6 linked regions of the Homo sapiens genome follow. The protein of the gene in region 2 purifies or fractionates together with the protein of the main gene of each other region. This does not show direct contact. Each region holds a gene or a part of one and is shown on either strand. Other genes may lie near its edges.

Region 1 (3,719 bases), on a different chromosome or scaffold from region 2:
CAAAAAGTAGCTGGGCGTGTTGGCACATGCCTATAATCCCAGCTACTTGGGAGGCTGAGGCAGGAGAACTGCTTGAACCCGGGAGGCGGAGGTTGCAGTGAGCCAAGATCACGCCACTCCACTCCAGCCTGGGTGACAAAGCGAGACGCCATCTCAAGAAAAAAGAAATGTCATCAGTGAAAGGAATGGAAACAGTAGGTAAATTCCCAGATAAGCAGGATCGACTGACTTGGCGGGTATTTGCAGTAAATACCCAACACTCTGATTAGCCTGGTTTGGTTTCATATTAGTAGATGTGCTAAGTTCAATTTTCATGCTTATGAGCGACTTTGTGCAAAGTTACTAAATTATCTTAGGTTTTCAGCCTTATCTAGGAAGTAAGGATGTTATCAGATAACCTTTGTTCCCTGACCTCTATAAATAAAAGCTTAGTAAATGGATGAAAGAAACCCTTACGAATTTCATTCAAGAAACACTAATTTACACTGTGCAATTTTAAAAAGCCAGGTCAATTATTATATAAAATGCTGGAGCAGAGCACTAGGCATTTTTCTGAAGGGAATCATATCCTTCTTCATATTGTCAAAGGACATTATGATCTGTATGTTAAGAACCACTGAGGCTGGAGGACTGCTAGAGGGCAGGAGTTCAAGACCAGCCTGGGCAACACAGCAAGATTCCATCTCTACTAAAAATAAAATAAAAATTAGCTGGGTGCTTGAACTCAAGAGTTTGACAATGCAGTGAGCTATAATGATGCCACTGCTCTCCAGCCTGGGAGACAAAGTGAAACTTGTCTCAAACAAAAACGCAAAAAGAACCACTGAGTGAGACATAAAGTAGAGTGAATGGCCAGATGAAGATGAACTCTCTCTATGCTGTATGAAAAATCAGAGGTGGCAGGTGATCAATTCTACATTTTAAAATTCCATCATTTAAACAGCACTGATTTATGATACACAATTATTTTTACATGTGTATACATAATTTGCAATAAGCTATTAATCTTAACTAAAAATATTTTATCTGATATTTTAATGTTCTTTATAAATTCTGCATATTTTGAATTACAAGCTATATAAAGATCACTACTGTACTCCCAAAACATCTAAGTCAAAGTAAATATGGACCAGGTGCAGTAACTCACACTTGTAATCCTAGCACTTTGGGAGGCCAAGGCAGGTGGATCCCTTGAGCCCAGGCGTTCAAGACCGGCCTGGGCAATATGGCAAAACCTTGTCTTTACTAAAAATTAAAAAAAAATTAGCCAGGTGGGGTGGCAAACATCTGTAGCCCCAGCTACTTGGGAGGCTAAGGTGGGAGGATCACTTAAGCCTGGGATGTTGAGGCTGCAGTGAGCTGTGATCACACCACTGCACCAGCATGGGTGACAGAATGAGACCCCTGTCTAAAACAAACCAAAAAACCCACAAGAAAAGCAAGTATTAGTGTGTGTAGAATGCTATATATGCATAAGTATGCTCTCATATAGAAAGATCTCTGAGGTTGCACTTTCTATCTTTAAGAAGACAACAGGTTTATATTTTATTTAAACTTACTTGGGAAAATTGCATTAAGAAACTCTATTTCTTCCTGGAAATTCCGGTGTGGGTACCCTTGGTGAGAAGGCTTCATGAAATTCTTACGAGAATAAAAGAAGCTCTTTATTAAAAAAGAAAAGAAAGAAAAAAAAAGATGACTTTAGATGTAGAATTCTATCACTTTTCGAAGCTAATCAACTATTGTCCACATATCAAAAACTCGGCAAAATCAAAACTCAAATATTTTAGCTTGGCATGGTAGCATATGCCTGTAGTCTCGCTATTAGGAGGCAGGAGGATCACTTGGCCCAGGAGTCCAGCCTGGGCAACATACTGAGGCCCCATCTCTCTCTCTCTCTCTTTTTTTTAAAAAGCCCAGTCTAGTGATGATGGGTCATAACAACTATTAACACCAAGTATATTCCTTTCTAGAACAGTAGTTTCTAAACTGAGCTTATTAATAGTCATATAAGCAAAAATTTGGGGGGAATAACATATTAGTTTTAAGCATCGGTTAAGCACACATTGCTTTAGATTTCTTACAAGGATCAATTCATAACAACAAAAACTGTATTGAGTACTAATGACAATCCATCCTTTCCTTATGAAGTTAAAGATTAAAATTCAGGCCGGGTGCAGTGGCTCACGCCTGCAATCCCAGCACTTTAGGAGACTGAGGTGGGTGGAACACCTGAGGTCAGGAGTTAAGAGACCAGCCTGGCCAACATGGTGAAACACCGTCTCTACTAAAAATACAAAAAAAATTAGCCAGGCATGGTGGTGGGCACCTGTGATCCCAGCTACTTGGGAGGCTGAGGCAGGAGAATCACTTGAACCTGGGAGGTGCAGATTGCAGTGAGCTGAGATCGTGCTATTGCATTCCAGCCTGGGAAACAAGAGCGAAACTCCATCTCAAAAAAATAAAAAATAAATAAAATGTAACAACTGCTAATCAGAAAATTATACCCTAGGTAAAAACACCTTAGTTCTTGAAAAGTATAAGAATTTAACTCAATACTGACTGTTGCTCTTCATCCTAACTCTTCATTATAAAGACTGGACAATTTCAGTAACGACATTTTTCTTGCTTTTCCTTCTTTTCTTACCATTTCTCTATTATTATAAGTAGCCATGTTAAGAAATTAACTACTGGAAGTGTCTGGCTTCTTCATTTCTTTCTCCCATTTGAATTTCATCCTAACTCATTCTCTGCTTCCTATTTTCTGCTGTTCTTGAGAATCAGATCTCTTCCTAAGGTATGAACACCTTACCACGTGTTTGCATGCATTGTAACAAAGGCAGTAAGTATATAAATTTATTTACTTCGCATATTACAGGATAAGAACGCTAACATTTATGCCTGAAAAATATTTAAATGTTTGCTTACTTACTTGAATTGAGTCAAACCCACTGTAATCCCTAGCAAGCTTCAACAGGGGAACCAGTGCTTTCAGCAAGAGGGTGGTACCACATGTCTTCAAAATGAAACGTCTCTTGGAGACAAACATGCTACTCTCACTGCAGTTGAAAAAAGTCACAATATTATAACAATACTAATGTACTACTGAGGGTGCAATCAACCAATTTAATTATCATTTACAATTTTGGCTAGTACTTTTAAATATTAGGATCTCAAGGAAGCAAGTAACACATTATTCTTTTCCTTTTCTAGTATACAAAACATCCCCAGGGCTTGGCACATGGTAAGCATTTTGATAAACATTCGTATATTCATAATATAAACTTAGTTTAAAAAAAAAAAAGAGAGAGGCCAGGCACAGTGGCTCACACCTGTAATCCCAGCACTTTAGGCGGCCGAGGTGGATCACCACGTCAGGAGTTCAAGACCAGCCTGGCCAAGATGATGAAACCCCGTCTCTACTAAAAATACAAAAATTAGCCGGGCACAGTGGCAGGCGCCTGTAATACCAGCTACTTGGGAGGCTGAGGCAAGAAAATCGCTTGAACCTGGGCGGCAGAGGTTGCAGTGAGAGGAGATTGCGCCAATGCACTCCAGCCTGGACAGACTGAGACTCCGCCTCAGAAAAAAAAAGGGGGGGAGGGGCTGTTTAGTCCAGTATCCCCCAGCAAGGCCCATCACAATATATACTATAAGCATTAAAAGTATTTATGGAATAAATTAACTCTGCAACTACAAAAAAGGTGATGAGCTTTTAT
Region 2 (3,518 bases):
AATACAAAAATTAGCCGGGCATGGTGGTGTGCGCCTGTAACCACAGCTACTCAGGAGGGTGAGGCAGGAGAATCGCTTGAACCCGGGAAGTGGAGGTTGCAGTGAGCCGAGATTGCACCACTGCACTCCAGCCTAGGTGACACAGTGAGACTCCATCTCAAAAAAAAAAAGAAAGAAAGAAAAGAAAAGAAATCGCAGGGCTATGAAAAGCCACATTGCCATATGGCAGGTATCTTAAAAGCTGGGGGCTTCTCATGCCTCGCCCCTATCTACCTGGGCTCTAAACATTAAGCTGCATCTCTTAAACCTTGGCCCTGTTGGAGGCCACTCCCCTTTACACAGAAGGCCAAGCAAACTGCAGGCTCCGCCCTCTTCCCCGCCCAAGTCACAACCCACGCCCCTTGCCCCCGCGTCTCCTACCAGGCCTGGCAGAGCTCCTCGCAGAGCGGCTGTGCCTGGCGTACCCCCAATAGCCGCAGGCGGAAGCGACTGCGAAGGGCACGTTGGAGGTGTTCCAGGAAGGATTCGCATCTGGACGTTGGGAGAGATAGGGTCGGATGGGTCAGGACCCGAGGGAGTTCCTGGGCAATGGGCAAAGTACGCGAGAAAACGGTGGAGGGTGCTGTACTCACTCAGGGCTCGGCACTCCACAGCGTTCTGGATGGTTTCCAGGGCCCGATGTCTCTGTTGTGTCCATCTCTGAGGGACAACAAGGTCCTGGCAAAGGGGAACCCTGTGAGCTAGGGTCTTGGATATTCAGGTAAGGTTTGGGAACTGAGGCCTGGGGATCCCCTGGACAGGGGAGACAACAATTACATCAATCCTCACAAACCCATAACTTAAGACCCTTCCTTTGGAATGCAAATGCAGCTTCAAGTAGTAATAATCATTTCTTGTTTATAATAATCAACTTACTTGTCATGTGCCTGGTAGTGACACATATACTTAATCCTTTTCCTTTTTTTTTTTTCTTTTTTTCTTTTGAGACAGGGCCTCACTCTGTCACCCAGGCTGGAGTGCAGTGGCGTGATCTTGGCTCACTGCAACCTCCACCTCCCAGGTTCAAACAATTCTCGTGCCTAAGCCTCCCAAGTAGCTGGGATTTCAGGCGCATGCCACCTCGTCCAGCTAATTTTTGTATTATTAGTAGAGACAGGGGTTTCACCATGCTGGCCAGGCTGGTCTCAAACTCCTGACCTCAAATGATCTGCCCACTGCAGCCTCCCAAAGTGCTGGGATTATAGGCGTGAGCCACCGAGCCCTGCTCATATGCTTATATGCTTAATCTTAACAACAGCTCTGCGAGGTATATTTGTTATTTCTCTCTTTTTGGGGGTCCATGTGAGACCCAGAGAGGTTAAATGACTTCCTCAGGATCACACAGCTACAAAGTGGCAGAGTTGGGATTTGAACCCAGGCAGTCTAATTCTTATCCACCATTCTTCAGCACTATCCGTGCCTCCCACCTTGGTGGCCATGCTAGGCCCCTCTCATAAGGAAATTCTAACATTGTCATGGCAGGGTAGGTGTGGGTTTCTGGGTGTTGGTGGTGAGGCAGGGTCTGGGGTGCTCACCTGCCAGGTGCAGCTTGCCTTTGCCCAGATCAGCTGCCAGCCCATGGTGTTGCTGGGACCTGGCTTGGAGTGGGCGGCTCCCTCCACAGGCTTCTAGCAGGATCCATGCCAAGGTCAGTTGCAGCACCCACGTCAGGCCGATGGGTCGCATGTGGACCCTGCAGTCCATGTCCACCTGAGATAAGAGCTGGCAGGCATAGGGTGGGGTTCAGCCATCCCTTTCTGTGAGCTTAGGGTGGCACCCACCCAGTGCATACCCAAGAAGCAGTGCCAGGCAGAGTAGGGAAAGTGCAGCTGAGGAGGAGGCTGGGGCAGTGGCCAAGGACGTTCAAATCCCAGGAGACCATCAGGGCCTGCCTCCAACCTAGGAGCCCCCCTCCCATCAGAACCATGTCCTCTATGTCCCTTCAGTGCCACCCCAACCAAGCTTAGACCACAGTGGCCCTCCTCCCATCCAGCAGGATCTCCCACCTTTTTAGTCTTCAAGAGACCCCTTCTTTTCTCAGAATGAAGGGGACCTCCCTAGGTCTTCCAATCCCCCTCTCCTGTTCAGTAATTCCTCCCTCTCTTCTATGCGGCCTCCCTCCTCCCTCTCTCGCTCCCTGCCGGCCCTTCTCTGGGTCACCTTCTCTCGGCCCACAATCGGCTTAGGGGCCACCCAGAGCTGGACCTTTGGGACCAAGGCTGGTGTGGCAGGGCTCAGGTTCTGTCACTGGGGCCCAAAGCCCCGAGGCAGGGACAGCTAGCGGTCTGTGGAGACAAGACTGTCCCCTTCCCGCCTCCCCGCATTCAGCCCCTCACCTGTTGGCTGGATTGGGGTCTAGAGGCCGCTAAGACACCTCAGGATCCAGTCCAGGAAACTGGCTGCTGAAAGGGGCGTGGCTTAATGCAGGGGCGGGACCTCCCACCGTCCTGCCCACACTCCAGCTGACCAAAGGCTGGCCGACTTGGGGCTGGTGTGTATATATCCTTGTGTTTGTTTTTATGTTCAGCTTGTGGCTTAAGCTCTGTATCTATATATGTGGGGAGTGTGTGTGTGTGTGTGTGTGTGTATGTGTGTGAGGAAGGTGTGTTTGTGTGGCCTATAGCCTGTGTGTGTTCCCAGGCACCTGTGTCTTTTGTTTGTGTGGCTGTGTGTGTGTTGAGCATGTATGTGTGTTTTTGTTGTATGAGGTTATGTTTATGTGTGTTTCTTGGTGGAGTGGTTGTGTGTGTGTGTGTGTGTGTGTGTGTGTGTGTGTGTGTGTATACGTTCAGAATCTGGGGGAGGATTGTGTGTCCCAAGCAATGTGTTTGCAGTTGAATAAAACAGGATCTTAATAAATGTGAGAAGGGGAAATGTAGCATTGGGTTAGTGTCCCTGCAAAAATGTTGGAAGTCAGTGGATAAAGGTTTTTGACCATGAAGGTTGACCATGAATGAACAAAGAAATGTCATGTGCTGAGCAGGATGTGTTTGTGTGCACACATTATGTGTCCTTCTGAAGTTTCTGTGAATGTGTGTTGCTTGTGAACACTCCTTTAACTCATCCATTCATTCAACAAACATTTATTGAGCACCTACTGTGTGCTAGATTCTGGGGATGCAGTAGTGAACAAGACATGAAAATTTCAGCCAGGCATGGTGGTTCACACCTGTAATCCCAGCACATTGGGAAGCTGAAGTAGAAGGATCGTTTGAGCCCAGGAGTTTGAAACCAGGCTGGCCAACGTGGTGAAACCCCATCTCTACTAAAAATAATCAAAAATAGCTGGGCATGGTGGCACATGCTTGTAATCTCAGCAGTTCAGGAGGCTGAGGCATGAAAATAGTTTGAACCTGGGAAGCAGAGGTTGCAGTGAATCAAGATTGTTCCACTGCACTCCAGCCTGTGCAACAGAGTGAAACTCTGTCTCAAAAACAAACAAACAAACAAAAACTCAAAATAAAAGACACAAAAATCTC
Region 3 (3,719 bases), on a different chromosome or scaffold from region 2:
TTGAAATGCAGAATTCATAGCCAGCAACAGCAAATTCCTGTCTGTAAAGCAAAATCAATAATCAGCCATTTACCTTTTCTTCTTTTTTTTTTCTTCCTTCTGTTGAGATGGAGTTTCGCTCTTGTTGCCCAGGCTGGAGTGCAATGGCGTGACCTCGGCTCAGAGCAACCTCCACCTCCGGGGTTCAAGCGATTCTCCTGCCTTAGCCTCTCGAATAGCTGGGATTACAGGTGCCCGCCACTATGCCCAGCTAATTTTTGTATTTTTGGTAAAGACAGAGTTTCACCATGTTGGCCAGGCTGGTCTGGAACTCCTGACCTTAAGTGATCCACCCACCTCGGCCTCCCAAAGTGGTGGGATTACAGGCGTGAGCCACTGCGCCCGGCCCATTTACCTTTTCACAAATTCTTTTTATCTTCATTTTTCCAGCTCAGTTTAAACATTATCAGTAAAGGAAGTGTAAAATGGGAAGAGGGAACTTTGCTTAAAGTCTAAGTAGTGTCAAATCTGCCATTTCTCAAAGCAGTTTTTTTAAGTCATCCATTTAATATAACTTAGGACACAAAAAGCTAGGAATGCTGCCCTAATTTTAATAACTGACATAGCCAGCAGTATTCATCATCTCCCACTAACAGATGGCCTCCAGTGAATCAACTTCTCCATGTGTGAAAGCCTTACCCCTGTTCAAAGTAATACTACCCTAAACAGTTCAGGCCGCCCTACAGTGAGGATTCCAACTGTTGACCTCATACAGCTTCTGAGGAGCTTTAGTCATTTTATATTTCTTTCAAGCTATAAGTCTCTGATAAAAGTTTCTTTTGCAGAAATGGGACTCCTAGCTATGGCAATAGAAGTCATTTAACCCAACTCTGTAGCCCTGGACCCTCAATCAACTGGAGAGGGTTGAGTCAACCCAAGCAGGCCGACTGACTGCTGCTTTTTACAGAGATGCAGAGGAAATGTGACAGAAATCCCTTCTCCATTTAGGAGCTCAGCTTTGGTTCTTTTCTTCAGTTTTGGCTCTAGTTTCTTACAGAAGTGGCACTAAAAAGCTCACCTGTTCTCTAGTGCTTTGCCAGGGGAGAACTTATGACCCTACTGTTCTGCTCTGTTCTCAGAAGAACAGAAGCATCCCCTTCCTTCCCTACGCTCAAAACTTGGCAAGAGGGCCCTCTCTAGCCATAACACAGGGCAAGTGGACACTGCCCAGAAGACGCTCCCAGTCGGAGCAAGAGGTCTACAAACAATTCCCCTCATAACCTATATCAGCCTTTCGAAGCCTCAGATCTGGCCATGTCTTTTCTAGTCTCATGCTTCTCTTAATAAAACAAAATGAAAAGTACAGAGTACCATGTAACTCAGAGGCTAATTGTTACTAGCTTTCACCTCTAGAAGACTATGAATTTGTCTTACTCAACAATGTTTATTAGGCTCTGGGCTTCTTCTTACCCTAGGGATTCATACCCAATCAAGAACTAGGCATGTTTGTTACAACTCCAAGAAAGATTGACCAAGCTGCAGTGTTCCCTGGCATGGGCCAAGCTCAAAGCTCCTCAAAAGACTTGAAGTCAAAGGCTCCAGGAAGCTCTAGCCTATCTAGTGTCCAATCAAAATGCAAGGAGACTATGCAGGTCCTGATGAGAACAAAGGAGCTGGTGAGTAGGACAGTAGGGAACAGTGCCAGGGCCTGGCCTCAGTGAGCACCCTTTCTACAGCATCAGGCTCCATGTCACTCCAAACCTCTCGCACCAACTTCTGCACCACTAAAACCTGAAGGGAAGCTAGTCTTAGGTCTCTCCCTAAATTCATCCCAAATACAACTCTCTAGAGGAGTTCTCTGCTTACAACCTAGATGCTTCATCTTTGAACTCTATTTATACCAGCAAAATGGCTTCTTCAGAGTATTAATATATTATCCCCAGCAGCTTTCACACTGCTCTTTCCTCTTCTAGGAAAAGTTAAACTAAAGTTCTAACTCTAACTTCCCTTCCCACTTCAAGCAGCAACAGAAAACTTAGTTAGTTTTGTCACAGGGCAGCCAGAGATGTTGTGTGCCCCACTAGGCAGGCTGATGGAAACAGTAGGGGCAAACTGGAAAAAGACTGACAATTTCAAAGATGAGGGATGGAACACTTTGAGTGTGACACCCAATTTCTGGGAGACCCAGATGACCAGTAGACAATGAATATTATGTAACATCCCAGAGTCAAAGTTTCCTGCCCACAGTCCTACTCCCTGGCTGCTGTACTTACCTGTTCTGCGCAGCATAGATACTGGCCAGCTTTAGGGAAATTTCAATTATTGCATTGTCCTCCTGTGAGAGAAAGAGAATGAAGGGAACTCATAACAAGTAAATTTTTTCATGGCATATTTCAGATCAACTTCCAGACTGACGGTGGCCTCAAAGCCACAGTCTTTATTCTTTTAGAGTGATGAGCCAACTGTGAATTCCTTGGCAAGCATGCTGTTGCATTTAGTGAAAGAATGGCAATTTGTATAGAGATCTCAGAAGGGAAACTCCACCTTTCCTGACCAAAGCATGTGGTGGGGCTAGGAGGAGTTTTCAGGAGACAAGACTGTTTTGAAAACTGCTTCAGTGAGGGGCCAATACTAGGCAATGTCCTTACCTGCTTCATGCCCCCTCCAAGGAGGTAACTCATTGTTGCTTTAAAAAGTTGTTCAGCCTAAAAGCATAAGGAAAAGATTTTTCTTTTAATTGGGCCCCATTTTATATATATATATATGACCCTGGATTCTAAGTGCCAGTCTGATGCAACATTCCTTGTAAAACCCATATACCCACACACACGCACACTCACACACAGAAAAGTACCCTTTTGAAGCGAAAACAGATCAAAATATCAGGACCCTCAACATCCTCTGTGTACCTTAAACTACTCTCTGATGAGTAGAAAACAACCTCAGAGATTAAGTTCTTATCCAAACCCACTGTGGCAGAGACTACAAACTGTCTCCTAATAGTCATTCTCTTCTCCATCTTTTTGATTACAGAGTCCCCTCGATTTAGCCTGGGAAATATGGTGAAATCCCGTCTCTACAATAAATAAATAAATAAATAAATAAATAAATAAGAAAATTAGCCAAGTGTTGTGGCACACGCCTGGAATCCCAGCTACTCAGGAGGCTGAGGTGAGAGGATCAACTGAGCCTGGCAGGTCGAGGTTGCAGTCAGCCATGATTAAGCCACCGCACTCCAACCTGGGCAACAGAGCAAGACCTTATCTTAAAAAAAAAATTCAGTCAATTTTAGCAGATTGGACACCCTTAAGTTAGATATGGTCATATGATAAAATTTAGGCCAAGGGATGCAGGCAGAAAGAACGTGAACTTCTAATCATGTTTTATAAGGAAGCTGCTCACAGTCCATCTTCTCCCCCTTCCTGCAGACTGGAGGTGAGTCAGCTCACCTAGGCAGAGGAGGGCTTATCTTAGAAGAAACCTGGACTTCTGGATCAGAGAGCAAAGGTGCCTATGTCTGTCTGCCTTCAGTCTTTAGCCTATCTCTGGACTAACACAATAAAGAGAAATACACTTTTATCTTGTTTGAGTCACTATATTCTAGGGTCTCTTTGTTATAGCAGCTTAGCCTGTACTCTTACTATTACAGTTCCCTTGAAGCTACTCCTTCATAAATTCAAGATATTACAAAGCAATTTACTTACATTTTCAAGCTGACCCCGTATAAATGCTAAGTTGGC
Region 4 (3,719 bases), on a different chromosome or scaffold from region 2:
GGGCCCACGTGGGGTGGGAATGTGAGGCAGGGTGGGGCCGAGCAGTAACACTATCCTCACAGCAGCACCCCCGGAGCCTGCACTGGGGAGGGCGGCAGCGTGGCGTCACAGGACTGGGCCAGCAGCTCACATCCACCCTGTCCTCCCTTTTTCAGGCCTAGGTTCACTGTCCCCCAGGCAGCTTCACGGCTGTTTTTACACACCTCCCATTGTAGCTGTCTCACCGGGTCATCGGTGACCACGGTGTCCACCATGTTACCGAGAGCTTCTCTGTGCCCCTGGACGAGTCCTAAGGCTGTGCTGTCTCCGGACTTTCTGCAAAGGACCCTGTAAGGCTCCCAGCCTCCCCGGCCTCGCAGGCACCTTCTCTCCCCGGCCTCCCGGCGCTGGCCTCGCAGGCACCTTCTCTCCCCAGCCTCCCGGCGCCGGCCTCGCAGGCACCTTCTCTCCCCGGCCTCCCGGCGCCGGCCTCGCAGGCACCTTCTCTCCCCGGCCTCCCGGCGCCGGCCTCGCAGGCACCTTCTCTCCCCGGCCTCCCGGCGCTGGCCTCGCAGGCACCTTCTCTCCCCGGCCTCCCGGCGCCGGCCTCGCAGGCACCTTCTCTCCCCGGCCTCCTGGCGCCGGCCTCGCAGGCACCTTCTCTCCCCCGCCTCCTGGCGCCGGCCTCGCAGGCACCTTCTCTCCCCGGCCTCCTGGCACTGGCTTCGCAGGCACCTTCTCGGCACATCTCTCTCATTTCTTCTTCACTGGCTGACTCTGAACTGAGTGACCTGCATGGCCATCCTGAGAGGTGGGCCTCTGCCCGCACCTCCGCCCACCCCGCCCACCCATCCCTGCCCCGGAACCGGAGGAGCCTCAGCTTGTCCTGACGCTGCCATCTGAGGCCGTCTGCTTGCTTTCAGCGTATGCCTGTCTGAAGGTGCAGCCACAGCCACCCCAACGGTAAGAGCCAAGACTTACTGTAGTCCAGGCTGTAGAAGGCGAAGCCGCTCCCGGGGTAGAAAGAGCCTCTCTCCGTCACCGAGAAGCACTGCATCCTCGTGTTCACTTTCACCGTTTCCTGGATGGTGGTGTCTTCTCCGTTCAGCCAGTTCCAGCTCCTCATGCAGCCATCCAGACGAGGGTTTATCTGGAAAGGCAGAGAAATCTCCGTGGCTTCCTGGGAGCGAGAAGCCCCATGCCGGATGCCCCAGTCGGTGGGTGGCGCCTTCGCGGCCCTGGTATGTGCAGCTCTACGGCAGAAACGGGCCAGTCCCATCGGTGGTGGCCATTTCACAGAAGGTTTCTTCACTTTACACAACGCCTCACTGCAGAATACCTATTTCCACTGGTGTATGCTCAAGAACTAAAGGTTCATTTTAAAGCTAGGAAAGGACTGAAAAGGCCATGTGGGTCTAAGGTCAAAGAGTATGGATTGTTCAACCATCCAACACTCATGTGAATTATTCAATATTCAATATGGCTGTGGGCAAATCAGGGCAACCCCCTTATCTGTGAAACGAGGAGGGTCCAGCCAGGCAAAGTCCCGGCACCAGGCTGTCTGTGGGCCTGGGAAGCAGGTGCCCCTCACAACACCGAAGGTCCCGGCACCAGGCAGTCTGTGGGCCTGGGGAGCAGGTGCCCCTCACAACACTGAAGGGGTGGCTTCAGCACAGGCACTGCCGACACTCAGCACCCAAAGACGCGAAGACATGCGTGCCTTTCTCCTGCCTGGTGTGGAAGTGAAAATACCCAGGATGACGGCTTAGACGTCAGCACGTGGGGGCTGGAGACACAGGTCGGGGGCACGGGCGTGTGCTGTGCTGAAGGGGAGAGAAGGCGGGACCTGGAGCAATGGCCCACACTGACCGCCCATCATGGCTGTTTTCCCCTTATGAGACTCACGGCAGAGTTACAAAACCCAAAATGTTCTTGGAAATTGTCCAAAAAAGTTTACTGTTCTGTTAAAGAATAATTTCGGCCGGGCGCGGTGGCTCACGCCTGTAATCCCAGCACTTTGGGAGGCCGAGGTGGGCAGTTCACGAGGTCAGAAGATCGAGACCACGGCGAAACCCCGTCTCTACTAAAAATACAAAAAAATTAGCCGGACGTGGTGGCGGGCGCCTGTAGTCCCAGCTGCCTGGGAGGCTGAGGCAGGAGAATGGCGTGAACCCGGGAGGCGGAGCTTGCAGTGAGCCGAGATCGCGCCACTGCACTCCAGCCTGGGCAACAGAGCAAGACTCCGTCTCAAAAAAAATAATAATAATTTAATTGTGTCTTATCTCCATTGAAAAATAGACAACTTTATTATCAATTCAGATGAAAACTTAGGTCTCATAAAAAGAGATGGTAAAATTAATGACATAGCTGTACGGCGACTTTGTCAAACTCTAGGAAACCTTTCCTTCCTCTAGGTCCTCCTCACACCTGGTTAATGGTAAACACAGGGCAGGGTGTGACTGAGGCTTCCTGACACCGTTCCCGGGATCCCAGCACACGGCGCGTCTACACAGGGACAGGTACAGTACTCACAGGCTGCACGAGGTCCTTCTCATGGAAGGGAATACCTCCCACGGTCAGGTTCAGATGATACAGTCCTCGCTCCGGTTGGAACAAGTCCCCGGCCACCGCGATTTTCATGACAGCATCCCTGTTGACCTTGATGACCAGATTCCGCGCCAGCTCCTCAACAGAGATCTGAAGAGAGGCAGCGCCATGAGAAAAGATGGGAGTGCACGTTCTGAAGGGGCTCCCAACTGAGAAAAACCACACTCATCCTCTCCTGAGCCAAGAGGGTCCCGACCTCGGGGAGGCCACCTGATCCTCACCTGGGCCAAGAGGGTCCCAACCTCAGGGAGACCACCTGATCCTCCCCTGAGCCAAGAGGGTCCCGATCTCAGGGAGACCACCTGATCCTCCCCTGAGCCAAGAGGGTCCCGACCTCAGGGAGACCACCTGATCCTCCCCTGAGCCAAGAGGGTCCCGATCTCAGGGAGACCACCTGATCCTCACCTGGGCCAAGAGGGTCTCAATCTCAGGCAGACCACATGATCCTCACCTGGGCCAAGAGGGTCCCGATCTCAGGGAGGCCACCTGATCCTCACCTGGGCCAAGAGGGTCCCGACCTCAGGGAGACCACCTGATCCTCCCCTGAGCCAAGAGGGTCCCGATCTCAGGGAGACCACCTGATCCTCACCTGGGCCAAGAGGGTCTCAATCTCAGGCAGACCACATGATCCTCACCTGGGCCAAGAGGGTCCCAATCTCAGGGAGGCCACCTGATCCTCACCTGGGCGAAGAGGGTCCCAATCTCAGGGAGACCACCTGATCCTCACCTGGCCAAGAGGGACCTGACCTCAGGGAGACCACCTGATCCACACCTGAGCCAAGAAGGTCCCAATCTCAGGGACACCACCTGATCCTCACCTGGGCCAAGAGGGTCTCAATCTCAGGGAGACCACATGATCCTCACCTGGGCCAAGAGGGACCTGACCCGGGGAGACCACCTGATCCTCACCTGGGCCAAGAGGGTCCCAACTTCAGAGAGACCACCTGATCCACACCTGAGCCAAGAGGGTCCCAACCTCAGAGAGACCACCTGATCCTCACCTGAGCCATGAGGGACCTGATCTCAAGGAGACCATCTGATCCTCACCTGGGCCAAGAGGGACCTGACCTCAGGGAGTCCACCTGATCCTCACCTGGGCCAAGAGGGACCTGACCTCAGGGAGTCCACCTGAT
Region 5 (3,557 bases), on a different chromosome or scaffold from region 2:
GACCATCCTGGCTAACACGGTGAAACCCCGTCTCTACTAAAAATACAAAAATTAGCCAGGCATGGTGGCGGGCGCCTGTAGTCCCAGCTACACGGGAGGCTGAGGCAGGAGAATGGCGTGAACCCGGGAGGCGGAGCTTGCAGTGAGTCGAGATCGCGCCACTGCACTCCAGCCTGGGCGACAGAGCAAAACTCCGTCTCAAAAAAAAAAAAAAAAAATATATATATATATATATAAAATCTTAAAAAAAATATATATATATATATAATAGATATAATTTTTTTTTTGAGACAGAGTCTCACTCTGTCACCCAGGCTGGAGTGCAGTGGCACGATCTGAGCTCACTGCAACCTCTGCCTCCTGGGTTCAAACGATTATTTTGTCTCAGCCTCCCTAGTAGCTGGGACTACAGGCACGTGCCATCAAGCCCAGCTAATTTTTGTATTTTTAGTAGAGACGGGGTTTCACTATGTTGGCCAGGGTGGTCTCAAACTCTTGGCCTCAAATGATCTGCCCGTCTCAGCCTCCCAATGTGCTAGGATTACAGGCATGAGCCACTGCACCCGGACTAATTTTTTTTTTTTTAAGTAGAGACAGGGTTGCGCTGTGTTGCCTGTGCTGGTCTCAACCTCTTGGGCTCAAACAATCCTCCCACCTCAGCCTCCCTAAGTGCTGGGATTACAGGTGTGAGCCACTATGCCTGGCCTCCAGCGCTCATTCTATGGAAGATGTCACCCAAACCAGTGAAACCAGTGGCTCCTAAAGATGGTGATCCTTTGAGGAATTTCTGTAAAAATATAGATTTCTAAGCCCTGTCTCTGGATATTCTTTTTCAACAAATCCAAGGACTAAGATTTATCTGTATTTTTACCAGGTGATTCTGGTGACCTGCCAGGTTGGAACCAGCTGATGGTATGTGTTTTTTTTTTTTTTCATGCAGACAGCATGGAGACTTTTATTTTACTTCTGGAGATGGGGGTCTCACTATGTTGCTCAGGCCGGAGTGCAATGGCTATTCACAGGCATGATCATAGGTCATTGCAGCTGGAAACTCCAGACCTCAGGCAATTCTCCTGTCTCGGCCTCCTGAATAGCTGGTGTGCACCACTGAGCCCAGCAGGCATGGAGATTTTGGACTGTTCCTGCACATGGAAGCGGGAAGCATTAAGAAAGCTGTCTAGGAACTCTGCACAGGTATTTCGCCTGCCAGGCCTGCTTCTGGTGATGAGGCAGGAGTGAGCCCTTAAGCTGGGTGTCCCACAAACGCTGGAAAGTGGAGGGTTCTGCTCTGAGGCACAAAAGCTGACAGCAGCAATTAATGCCCCCCTCCTGGACTACAAACTCCCTGAGGGCACATCTGCTTTCAGCTGGATGAGTGTCTGAACCCAGGACAAGTTGGCACTCACGGTAGACAGACACGAGGTTATACAGGGCCCAGGTTGCCCAGTGCTGGCTGACAGGAGAGATTCCCTGGGGAAGGAGGCGGAGAATTGGTTCAAATGACCTGCAGGAAAAGAAATCAAGGTCACTGTGGATGCTGAGGGTGGGGAGTGTGTCTTTTCTTGTCTGAGGTTTCCTCCCACTGGAGAATCCTAGTGACCAACCATGATAGGCTGGCAGGATGCCAGGGAGAAGGGACAGCTGGCCCTGCATCCCACTGGCAGGCTGCACAACAAGGTTCCCTTGGAGAGGATAAAGGCACAAGCACATGAGGGAGGCACAAGGGACCCAGATTAGGAGGAGCAGAAAGCTGGAGACCTCAGCAAGGAGCAGAGACCCAGCCTGTGGGGAAGAGGGGAGAGGCACCCTGGGAACAGAAGCACGTGTGACCTGGTTTTTTTTTTTTTTTTTTTTTTTTTTTTTTTTGTGAGACGGAGTTTCGCTCTGTTGCCCAGGCTGGGGTGCACTGGTGCAATCTCCACTCACTGCAACCTCTGCCTCCTGGGTTCAAGCGATTCTCCTGCCTCAGCCTCCTGAGTAACTGAGACTACAGGGGTGTGCCACCACACCCAGCTAATTTTTGCATTTTTTTTTCTTTTGAGACAGAGTCTTGCTCTGTCGCTCAGGCTGGAGTGCAGTGGCATGATCTCGGCTCACTGCAAGCTCCGCCTCCCTGGTTCACGCCATTCTCCTGCCTCAGCCTCCCGAGTAGCTGGGACTACAGGCGCCTACCACCAAACCCGGCTAATTTTTTTGTATTTTTTAGTAGAGACGGGGTTTCACCGTGTTAGCCAGGATGGTCTCGATCTCCTGACCTCGTGATCCACCCACCTCAGCCTCCCAGAGTGCTGGGATTATAGGCGTGAGCCACCGCGCCCGGCCTAAATTTTGTATTTTTGGTAGAGACAGGGTTTCACTATGTTGGCCAGGTTGGTTTCGAACTCCTGACCTCAAGTGATCCACCTGCCTTGGCCTCCCAAAGTGCTGGGATTATAGGCGTGAACCACCATGTCCAGCCCTTTTTTCTTTGTTTTTTTTTTTTTTGAGACGGAGTCTCACTCTGTCGCCCAGGCTGGAGTTCAGTGGTGCAATCTCGGCTCACTGCAACCTCTGCCTCCTGGGTTCACATGATTCTCCTGCCTCAGCCTCCCGAGTAGCTGGGACTACAGGTGCATGCCACCATGCCCAGCTAATTTTTGGTTAGAGCATCATTTTGCTGTTGGCCAGGCTGGTCTTGAACTCCTGACCACCCGCCTTGGCCTCCCAAAGTGCTAGGATTACAGGCGTGAGCCACCATGCCTGGCCTTTTTTTTTTTTTTTTTGGAGAAAGGGTCTCGCTCTGCTGCCCAGGCTGGAGTGCAGTGGCATGATCACAGCTCACTGCAGCCTTGACCTTCCAGGCCATGCAAGTGTTCCTCCCACCTCAGCCTCCTGAGGAGCTGGGACTATAGGTGTGAGCCACCATGCCTGGCTAATTAAAAAAAAATTTTTTTTGGCCAGGTGCAATGGCTCACACCTGTAATCCTAGCACTTTGGGAGGCTGAGGGGGGTGGATTGCCTGAGCTCAGGAGTTTGAGACCAACCTGGGCAACACAGTGAAACCCCGTCTCCACTAAAGTACAAAAAATTAGTTGAGCATGGTAACGTGCACCTGTAATCCCAGCTACTCGGGAGGCTGAGACAGGAGAATCGCTTGAACCTGGGAGACGGGGGTTGCAGTGAGCCAAGATCACACCATTGCACTCCAGCCTGGGTGACAGTGCGAGACTCCGTCTCAAAAAAAAAATTTTTTTTTTTGTAGAGGTGAGGGCTCACTATATTGCCCAGGCTGGTTTCAAACTCCTGAGCTCAAGTGATCTTCCTGCCTTGGCCTCCCAAAGTGGCTGGGATTCTAGGTGTGAGCCACCGCATCCGGCCTGTGACTGCTCTTCTGACGAGGGCCTTCTGTGGGCCAGCCTGGAGTCATGGTCCAAAAGCCTGAAACACGTGTGTGCAAAACTCCTGGGCCAGCGATTCCGCTTCCTTTCTCCCCAAGAACTATAGTACTTGGCACACTGGCAACGCTACCAATGTCAGCCTGTTCCTCCCAGTATGGGTTTTCAACTGAAATGTCCATC
Region 6 (3,719 bases), on a different chromosome or scaffold from region 2:
AACGATCAGTGCCACACGAGACGACAGCATGCAGATGGAGCAGATCTGCCATCTGAGCATGTCGGAGACAGACAGAAACCTCCAAGGAGGAAGTAAAACCCGAATCAAAGAACAGGAGAGAGAAGGAAGAATGGGGAGATGAGGCGCGGGCGAGGAAGGTCCACACACACAGGCGCAGGGACCCTTCAGCCCTGCAGACTGTGCCATGGAGGCGGCTGGCAGCCTGAGCGGCCCCTCGCTCATGGACACCCCCGACGGCAAATGACCCTCCCGGTCTCTGGGCAGGGCCCCCACCCCGCAGAGAGGCTGCCGAACAGGGGGGGCTTGTGGATGAGTGGTCAGAAGGAACTGTAAAATATCAAGTTTTTCAAAAGGTGACGAATGTGGCAACACAGAGGAAACTGGGGCGCCTGGATTCAAGCCAGGATAACTTACAGGTGTGCTCAGAAACTCGGGCCACGGTCCCCAGGCCCACCGCCCCCAGGCTCGCCATTTCCCAGGCCCACCTGTAAACCCCTTCCCCAGCTTCTCTCTCTCCTGGGACAGGAGCCAGCTCAGCCCAAGGTCAGCCATGCAGCCCCAGCTTCCTTTCCATGGCGCCACCTCAAGGGAAGACACAGCGACTCTGCCTGGCGACAGGTCTAGTAACACATACCCGAGCATCAGCCCGAAACTCCCTTTTCCTCCGGATCTTCTTGAAGATTTCCGTCAGCTCATCTCTGGCCTCCTCATCGGTGGCGCTGGCTCCCGCGGCAGCCTCGGAGGCAGCTGCTGTGGCCCCCTCGGCCTCTGGGGGAGCTTGGCCAGGAAGAGGCGTGTCTATGGTCGGGTCTTCTGCGTGTTCAATTAGCCACTCCATGGCCTGAGGCACCGACATGCTGCAAGGCAAGAGACTCTTTCCAACATCCCCAGACTAACGGACCAGGGCCTTCGCCTCCTGTCCATTCCCAAGAAGAGCCTCTGCTATGGTAGTGACTTCTCCAGCATCAGCTGGTGACCCTTATAACAAGAACCTGAATGAACACAGGTGCGACGGAAGCGCTGGTCCTTGCCTCAGACTACCTTGAGACCCTGGGCAGAATCAGAAGCCCATGTCTAAGGAGAGGCAAGCGGACCCAGAGATATCTGCTGAGGGCTTAGATAGGGACCACAGGGGGAACTGCCCCCGGCTGCCCCTGGATCTCGGATTATTCATTTTAGATCTGAACACAGAAGCAGGGCAAGTAACTCACACGGGAATCCTGAGAAGACTGTTAGAGGCCGTGTCCCTGCTACGAACGGGATTCACCTTGAGTTCTCATACAACGGCCCAAAGAGAATTTACACAACGACTGTTCTGTCACATTCACCCCAAAAACACTTTGGAGGCACATATTTAAGGTACCTCTTCAAAACCCCACGTTAGAAATGATTCAGTCAAAGAGTTTAGGGTAGGAGGACGTCACCCACGGTGGGAGCCCCACAAAACCAGGCCCCAGGTGTCTCCGGCAAGGGAAGGAGGTGGCCCCCCACGCACTGGTTCAGCTGAAGGGCCTTGGTGGCTCTGTTCTCCGGAAAGCCCATCTCCGTGAGCTGCCGCAGGGCAGCCTCGTCCACACGCTCATCCTCGTCCTCGTCCAGCATTGCTGCAGGGAGACGACAGGGCCATGAGGGCTCCAGCCTCAGGTTCAGGGGCCTTATCTGAGCACAAACATTTGCAGCAATTATCTGTCTGAGCTCCACCTGCCCGCCCTCAGGCACATCAACAGGAGTTGCCGGTGAGGCAGGCCCCAGGCCCTCATCAGCGCTTCCATAAAGCACTGAGGTTCCGGTCAGTGGTCAGTGCGTGGAGCTGCAGACGCTCCCCAAGGCCGGCAGTGAACCGCCCTGGAATGCAGCATCGGGGTTGACTCATACCATTCGCCTTCTTAAACAATTCCACTGCATCTGGGTTCAGCGCTAACAGCTTCTGCGCCACCTCGATGAGAGACACCAGTATCTTCCGGAGTTCTGTCTGGAACTGTGGTGAAAAAAAAGGAGATCAATTCTCTAAATGTCCACCAAACCTACTTGGATCTATGACTTGCTCCCCTGTCCTAGAACTCTTGATTCTGAGAGTTGAGATGACATTGCTTTCTTGCAAGACAGCAGGATCAGCTGAGGGCAAGGCAGGGGATTGGCAGGGCCAAGAGCCTCCCTGCAGGTGGGACTGAAGCCAGTGGAAAGGGACAGGAACGCCTGGTGACGGTCACTCAGTGCTGGCCCGATACTCAGCCTGTGCCCTGTGAGGAAACCGTCGGCCCAGCTGGCGCAGGTGCAGGGCAAGCTGAAGACCCTCTCTGGCTTCACTGAAGAAAACAGAATCATCTGAGGCTCCACCCCCATGAGTCTGCCAGCCCCCAGTGGAGGCATGGCTGCCACACAGCGTCTGCGGCGGCCATCACTGTCCTCCCCAGGCAGGAGGAGCCGTGGGATGGACCGGAGATGCCCTCCAGAACAGCTCCTGGCTACAGGGCCTAGAGGTCAGGCGTCAGCTGTCCCTACTCTCACACAAGTGTGAGCCTTGGTGCGGACACCACACTAGAGAAATACCTCTGAGCCGGACACACACAGGATGGGAGACACACATGCTGGCTGCTGGGGAAAAGCCACCATGCCCTGGTCAGCACAGAACTCTCTGGAAGACACCCCAAGAGGTTCATTCCTAAAATGAAACAGGGCTTATAGCAGTGCCCTTAGGTTGGACTGGCATCAGATGAAGTTGGAAGCCAGCCGTCCTCCCACCCCGGCACAGCACGTGCCTGCCCTGCCTGCTGCGGCGTCCACGTGAGCACTGCAAACACTTTTCTTTTTTAACTTAGAATGTTCTGACCCAAAATAACTCACGGGTTCAGATTTGTGTGTTTTTTTTTTTCTTGAGACGGAGTTTCGCTCTTGCTGCCGAGGCTGGAGTACGATGATGCAATCTCGGCTTACTGCAACCTCCGCCTCCCGGGTTCAAGTGATTCTCCTGTCTCAGCCTCCTGAATAGCTGGGATTACAGGTGCCTGCCACTACGCCCGGCTAATTTTTGGTATTTTTAGTAGAGACGGAGTTTCATCATGTTGGCCAGGCTGGTCTCGAACTTCTGACCTCAGGTGATCCACCCGCTTCGGGTTCAGAATTCTATCTAAACGTTTTGCCAAACTCAGGGCCGGATTGACGTTTTCCCAGGGGTATCTATCTTTTCAATCCTGCCTTCAGATGGCTTTCCAACTCTTACTTGGAAATAATTTTTGATTTACAGAAAAAATGCAAAATAGTGCAGTCCTACAGACCCGCTCACCGGCTTCCCCAAATCCTCCCAGAGAATCTCCTCTTGCTGCCCCGCCCCGCAGGAACCCCCCCACAGCAATCCCCCACACGGGGACCCCATGCACCCGCCGCCGCTCTGGGCTGACACTCACGTCTCTCATGTTGGTCTGGACCGCGGCCCGGTCCATGTTGTAGGAGGGCAGGTTGGCGGTGGCCCGCAGTATGGCCTCTTTATCTGGAGCTTTCTGGTCTTGTTTTTTCTACACAGAAACGTAATCAGAAAGTCTGAGGTGAACGTAAGAGCAGCAAAAAGACGATGACAACTGAATCAGCGGAGCTCTGCCCAAGAAAGACTCCGTCTCCTTTAGGAGCCAGAGGTGTAAACTCCTTGATGAGCTGGGGGAGCCTGGAGAGTTCTGTGCAAGGCCCAGGGACAGCAGACGTGT

What was found.
Region 1: the proteins of RTBDN (region 2) and AMD1 purify together in Homo sapiens (affinity purification with mass spectrometry; 2 studies listed by BioGRID and IntAct, with this or other methods). This does not show direct contact.
Region 3: the proteins of RTBDN (region 2) and TTC19 purify together in Homo sapiens (affinity purification with mass spectrometry; 3 studies listed by BioGRID and IntAct, with this or other methods). This does not show direct contact.
Region 4: the proteins of RTBDN (region 2) and GAS6 purify together in Homo sapiens (affinity purification with mass spectrometry; 3 studies listed by BioGRID and IntAct, with this or other methods). This does not show direct contact.
Region 5: the proteins of RTBDN (region 2) and ZER1 purify together in Homo sapiens (affinity purification with mass spectrometry; 3 studies listed by BioGRID and IntAct, with this or other methods). This does not show direct contact.
Region 6: the proteins of RTBDN (region 2) and UBAC1 purify together in Homo sapiens (affinity purification with mass spectrometry; 3 studies listed by BioGRID and IntAct, with this or other methods). This does not show direct contact.

The regions. Positions count from the first base shown.
Region 1 is NC_000006.12:110,888,197-110,891,915, reverse strand, and holds part of AMD1 (S-adenosylmethionine decarboxylase proenzyme), read right to left. Parts: intron 3,581-3,719; exon of another isoform or gene 3,510-3,580; intron 3,060-3,509; coding exon 2,933-3,059; intron 1,663-2,932; coding exon 1,560-1,662; intron 1-1,559.
Region 2 is NC_000019.10:12,828,237-12,831,754, forward strand, and holds part of RTBDN (retbindin isoform 1 precursor), read right to left. Parts: intron 2,444-3,518; exon of another isoform or gene 2,376-2,443; intron 2,193-2,375; exon of another isoform or gene 2,046-2,192; intron 1,762-2,045; coding exon of another isoform or gene 1,744-1,761; coding exon 1,575-1,743; intron 718-1,574; coding exon 633-717; intron 532-632; coding exon 421-531; intron 1-420.
Region 3 is NC_000017.11:16,002,796-16,006,514, reverse strand, and holds part of TTC19 (tetratricopeptide repeat protein 19, mitochondrial isoform 1 precursor), read right to left. Parts: coding exon 3,684-3,719; intron 2,685-3,683; coding exon 2,628-2,684; intron 2,315-2,627; coding exon 2,253-2,314; intron 42-2,252; coding exon 1-41. UniProt on the Homo sapiens protein: Required for the preservation of the structural and functional integrity of mitochondrial respiratory complex III by allowing the physiological turnover of the Rieske protein UQCRFS1.
Region 4 is NC_000013.11:113,826,036-113,829,754, forward strand, and holds part of GAS6 (growth arrest-specific protein 6 precursor), read right to left. Parts: intron 2,677-3,719; coding exon 2,512-2,676; intron 1,130-2,511; coding exon 961-1,129; intron 1-960. UniProt on the Homo sapiens protein: Ligand for tyrosine-protein kinase receptors AXL, TYRO3 and MER whose signaling is implicated in cell growth and survival, cell adhesion and cell migration.
Region 5 is NC_000009.12:128,733,928-128,737,484, forward strand, and holds part of ZER1 (protein zer-1 homolog), read right to left. Parts: intron 1,505-3,557; coding exon 1,407-1,504; intron 1-1,406. UniProt on the Homo sapiens protein: Serves as substrate adapter subunit in the E3 ubiquitin ligase complex ZYG11B-CUL2-Elongin BC. Acts to target substrates bearing N-terminal degrons for proteasomal degradation with the first four residues of substrates being the key recognition elements.
Region 6 is NC_000009.12:135,944,373-135,948,091, forward strand, and holds part of UBAC1 (ubiquitin-associated domain-containing protein 1), read right to left. Parts: intron 3,534-3,719; coding exon 3,426-3,533; intron 2,000-3,425; coding exon 1,897-1,999; intron 1,626-1,896; coding exon 1,517-1,625; intron 879-1,516; coding exon 656-878; intron 1-655.